Regions from separate parts of the Homo sapiens genome. Here region 1 is linked to region 2. The links come from fine-mapping of genetic effects on plasma protein levels. Region 2 holds a variant in brackets. A gene starts in the other region. All regions are shown on their forward strands.

Region 1 (3,014 bases), not on the chromosome of region 2:
GGTGTCCAGGGTTGTGGCCAAGATTAATGATAAATGAGAAGGAGAAACAGGCCTGCAGACTTGGCCAACCAGTTCAAGGCGCCGCACCTCTCCGTTCCAGTCCAAACCCCTGGCACTGGGGTTTCTGAAGTGGGGGTCCTCTGCAGGAGGAAGGCAGAGGTGGGTCCCCCCTTCCACTCCCCGCCCCAGGCATTCCCAAGGGCAGCCCCGGGTCGTGGCCCGAAGGCTGAGGGCTGAGTCACAGGAGGAGGAGATACTGCAGTCACGGGAGACACAGAGCCCAAGACAAAGATCGGATGACCCAATCCCGCCTCCCCCACCCCAAAATCAGATCGGCGGTGTAAGGCTGGTGGCGGTGGGGTAGCAAAGGCTCTCTCTCCTCCGTGATGGGCGTGTCTCGTCTCTTTGGCCTTGCTTTGGGAGGGGCCGCCTCACACCCCCACAGACCACGGGGCTGCATGTGACCAGGACTCTGGCACGGCCGCTGTGCCCCCGCCCAACCCCGACGACATAGCCCCTCAAGCTCCCTCGGGGAAAGGGGGCACTAACCGTCACTCATAGTCACAGACCACAATTACCCAGAGAGTGTTTGGTGGGTAGGGGTACAGGTGTGGTTTTAATGGGGGGGGGGGGGGGGGGTGGGGACGGTAGTGTGGTTGTGCGCATGCGCATGGGCACCTTATTGTTTTCCCCCCCACCAGCACAGCTTCTGGGCGGCGGCCACAACTAAAAATGGTTGGGGAAGGGGCGATAATTTCGTCTCCCCTCCCCACATAAATGCCGCTCTCCAGGAGCCCCCAAACACAAGTTCCTTGGCTACGCTTTCCACGCTCGTGCACCCAGGTCCGCGCCAGTTTCTCCCGCCCTGCCACACCCCCGGCGCTCGCCCACTCGTGCCCCACTGCCCAGTGGCCTGCGCAGCCCTGCCCTGCCCTACGCAACCCGCTCACCTTGCGGTCGCTGACTCCCTCGCCCACTGCGATCACAACACCCGCGCCCTCCATGCCCGGAGTGACAGGCAGAGGCGGGAGACGGTCGTACAGCCCCTGCCTAGCCATGAGGTCTGCGAAGTTGAGCCCGCAGGCCCGCAGACGCAGCGTCAGCTGGCCGGGCCCAGGGGCCGGGGGCGCTGCCGGCCGGCTCTGCAGCTTCACCTTGTCGTAGCCTCCAAAGCCGGTGAGCACTAGGCAGCGCAGCAGTGGCGGCGAGGCGGCGGCGGCGGCGGCCCCTTCGGAGGCCGCGGGATGCTGGGGGTCGCTCGCTGCCTCGGTTTTCGGAGGCGGCGAAGAGGCGTCTTCCCCGGTCGCTGCCTCGGCTACCTCTCTCTCGTCGGACATGGCTGGGACTCCCGACGAGAGCGCACAGCTGGATGGAGAGTGCACAGCTGGGGAAGGCGGAACGCGTCGGGAAGAGCCGCGGCTGCGGGATCCAGCGGGAGGGGCGGGGCGCCGGGCGAGGCGGGGCCTCGCGCTCAGCCTTAAAGGGCCAGGGCCATAGTGGCGCAAGCTGGGAGAGCACGAAAAGGGGCACCAGGAACGTCTGTGCTCTTGGGATCAAGCCGACTGTGATTTATTTATTCATAGTAAACCTTATTCAAATTAAAAACTATTTTAAGGGATAGGCCTGGCGCGGTGGCTCACGCCTGTAATCCCAGCACTTTGGGAGGCCGAGGCTGGTGGATCATTTGAGGTCAGGAGTTCAAGACCAGCCTGGCCAACATGGTGAAACCCCCGTCTTTACTAAAAATAAAAAAGTTAGCCGGGCGGTAGTGGCGCGCGCCTGTAATCTCAGCTACTTGGGAGGCTGAGGCAGAGGAATCGCTTGAGCCTGGGAGGCGGAGGTGAGCCGAGATCGCGCCACTACACTCCAGTCTGGGCAACAGAGTGAGACCCTGTTAAAAAAAAAAAAAAAAAGGGCCGGGCGGCGTGGCTCACGCCTGTAATCCCAACACTTTGGGAGGCCGAGGCGGGTGGGTGGATCACCTGAGGTCAGGAATTCGAGACCAGCCTGACCAGTATGGTGAAACCCCAGCTCTACTAAAACTACAAAAATTAGCCAGGCATGGTGGCAGGTGCCTATAGTCCCAGCTACTAGGGAGGCGGAGGCTGGAGAATTGCTTGAACCCAGGAGGCGGAGGTTGCAGTTAGCCAAGATCATGCCGCTGCACTCCAGCCTGGGCTACAGAGGGAGACTCCATCTCGAAAAAAAAAAAGGCCGGGCGCGGTGTCTCACGCCTGTAATCCCAGCACTTTGGGAGGCCGAGGCGGGCAGATTACGAGGTCAGGAGATTCACCTGGCTAACACGGTGAAACCCCGTCTCTACTAAAAAATACAAAAAATTAGCCAGGCGTGGTGGCAGGCGCCTGTAGTCCCAGCTACCTGGGAGGCTGAGGCAGGAGAATGGCATGAACCCAGGAGGCAGAGCTTGCAGTGAGTCGAGATCGCGCCACTGCACTCCAGCCTGGGCTACAGAGCGAGACTCCGTCTCAAAAAAAAAAAAAAAAAGTTAAGGAACAGTCCCAAAACTTGAACTTACATCAGATTTGGAGTTAACTCATATCAGATTTGGAGTCAGCCACCTGTGGACTGGAGTCCAACTACATTGTGTCTCAGGCTCTGACATCTAACCCAGGCAGGGATGAGACTTAATTCACTGTGGTCTTGCAGTGGCAAAGTAGAAGCATGGAGACCAAGCCTTTAAAACTTTCTGACTTTGGTGTTAACGTTCTGTTCCTCATTTTCCCTTCTGTAACATAGTGATGATGCTGCGTGCTCTAGTTATATTTATATTTTTATTTTTTTGATACAGGGTCTCACTCTGTCACCCAGGCTGAGCGAGGTGGGGCGATCACAGCTCCCTACAGCCTCAAACTCCCGGCTTCAAGCAATCCTCCCACCTCAGCCTCCTGAATAGCTGGGACCACAGGCATGTGTCACCACGCCCGGCTAACTTTATGTTTTACTGCTCTTTGCAGAGCAGGGCTACCCCATAGGCAGCGTGCCTAGAGTGGCCA
Region 2 (2,500 bases):
CTGAATTCCTAAGCCAGCAGTGGAGAAAGCCAACAAACCACCAGAGTTACACCACAGTTCCAACACCCATAATCTCACCCTGCCCCTCCTCTGCCCTGGAGAGAGTAAAACAGAGTGTCCCAGGACTGGCAGACAAGAGGCACAGTTATCAGGAAGTACAATACTGAAAATACGGAGATTAAATGAAAATCTACATATTGAATGAAACCTGCACCTGCCTCCCAACCCCCCTTCCCACCCAAAGCCCGCTTCCATTAATAGACCTCTAGTACAGCCAGGCCAATACCCTGCAAATAGGAGATCAGACATTTTCCTAAGGGATCTGACCAGGCCAAGATGAATCAAGATACTGACATTATGGGACTCCCAATAAAATGTCTCAGCGGATCACATTACAGCAAATCCCAAAAACAATAAGACCCAACCACCCACTCAGAACTACTAATCATCTGTCTGATATTTCACTCTTGAACATCAGCAAATAATCAAAGATTACCAGACATCTGAGGAAAGCCTCTAATTTGAAAGAGATCAAAACAAACAAAACTAAAGTCCACCTGGAAGAAATAGGACTATTCCAGACAGAAGAAAACTGTTATTAATACTGTTACAGAGATAAGATAGTATATCAATAAAACAAGAGAAATGGTATTTAAAAATATATTCTGAAAAAAGAATTTAGAAATTAAAAACCCAAGAGTAGAAATTAATAACTAAGAGAAGAATTAAAAGATGGTTGAACTGGGCAATGGCACCTGTAGGTATACATAAGAGAAATAAAACCATGTTCACACACAAACTTGTCCATAAATGTACATAGCAGCATTATTCACAATAGCCAAAAGGGGAAACAACCCAAACGTCCATCAACTGACGAATCCATGAGTAACTGTGGTATATCCACACAATTGTATTATTCAGCAATAAAAAGGAATGAAGGCCAGGCGTGGTGGCTCATGCCTGTAATCCCAGCACTTTGGGAGGCCGAGACAGGCGGATCACCTGAGGTCGGGAGTTCAAGACCAGCCTGACCAACATGGAGAAACCCCGTCTCTACTAAAAAAAAAATACAAAATTTGCCAGGCATGGTGGTGCATGCCTGTAATCCCAGCTACTCAGGAGGCTAAGGCAGGAGAATCGCTTGAACCTGGGAGGCGAAGGTTGCAGTGAGCCAAGATCATGCCATTGCACTCCAGCATGGGCAACAAGTACGAAACTCCATCTCAAAAAGAAAAATAAATAAATAAATAAATAAAAAAGGAATGAAATTCTTTTTTCCTTTATATTTTTTATAGACAAGGA[T/C]AGATCAATACAAAAAAAGGAATGAAAATCTGATACATGCTACAACACAGGTGAATCCTGAAAACATTATGCTAAATGAAAGAAGCCATTCACAAAGGCTATATATTTTATAATTCCATTTATATGAAATGTCCAGAATAGGCAAATCTATAGAGACAGAAAGTAGACTGGTGTCTACTTTCCATTTGTAGACTGGTGTCTACAAATCTATAGAGACAGAAAGTAGACTACCCTCGAAGGGCCGAGGGTAGAAGAAATGTTGAGTGAGTGCTAAAGGGCATGGGTTTTGAGGAGGTGATGAAACTATTCTGAAATTAGATCATGGTGATGGTTGCACAACTCTATGAATATACTAAAAACCACTGGATTGTGCACTTTAAATGGGTAAACTGAATGGTATGTGAATTACATCTCAATATAGCCACTGTTTTTTTAATGATTGAAGAAATCACCCAGCAAGTTGAACTAAAAGAGACAGAGATGATCAAAAGTAGGAGGCAAAATAAAATTAGAAGACTATTCTAGGAGTTTCAACATCCAAACAACAGATAGTCCATTAAAAAAAGAAGAAGAACAGAGAAAACAAAGGGGAAGAAATTAAAGAAATAAATTTCTTTGAACTGAAGGACCTGAGTTTCTAAATTGAGAGGGCCTGCCAAGTACCCAATACAATGAATGAAAATAGACGTATCCCAAAGGTCTGGAAATTTCAGAACACTGGGAACGAAGAGAAAATCCTACAGGATTCCAGTAAAGAAAAACCAGATCACCTATTAAAAGTCAAGATCAGACTGCCTTCACACTGTTTTGTTTTTTGTTGTTGTTGTTGTTGTTGTTTTGTTTTGTTTTGGTACAGACAGGGTCTGGCCATGTTGCCCAGGCTGGTCTCAAACTCCTGGCTTCAAGTGATCCTCCCACCTTAGCCTCCCAAAGTGCTAAGATTACAGGCATGAGCCACCATGGCTGACCTGACCCTCACACTTAACAGCAGCACTGGAAGTTGGAAGACAAAAGAGCAATGCCTTCAAAATCTTTAAAGGAAAATTATTTCCAATCTAGAATTCTATACTCCTGCAAACTACAAATCAAGTGTGATAGCAGAATAAAGGCTACTAAACAATGTCCCCCACCAAAATGAGGGAGTAAACCAAGCAAGAAGATATGAAACCCAAGAGGTATCCAACACAGACAGGTAAGG

Which allele goes with the higher level. Alleles are on the strand shown, and positions count from the first base shown. The strength of an association depends on the size of the effect and on how common the allele is.
With allele T in place of C in region 2, the plasma level of the protein whose gene starts at base 1,400 in region 1 is higher (weak association).

Evidence for each region. A credible set is the group of variants that fine-mapping cannot tell apart. PIP is the chance, under the fine-mapping model, that this variant and not a neighbour inherited with it causes the effect. Protein levels are from antibody-based Olink assays in UK Biobank. Linkage for the fine-mapping came from a reference panel and not from the study's own genotypes, which makes the PIPs less certain.
Region 1: VAT1 starts here. The variant in region 2 is the best candidate, but not a certain one, in a credible set for the plasma level of the VAT1 protein (UK Biobank, PIP 0.65).

What each region holds. Positions count from the first base shown.
Region 1 is chr17:43,020,986-43,023,999 of GRCh38, forward strand. It overlaps VAT1 (vesicle amine transport 1), which reads right to left and starts at 1,400. Exons shown (of 6, transcript NM_006373.4): 1 at 951-1,400. The coding sequence starts at 1,337.
Region 2 is chr15:43,463,684-43,466,183 of GRCh38, forward strand. The region is part of intron 11 of TP53BP1 (tumor protein p53 binding protein 1); the gene reads right to left. Among named protein-coding and RNA genes, the nearest start is that of TP53BP1, 28 kb to the right of the region's middle. The variant T/C (reference allele first, on the strand shown) is at 1,303.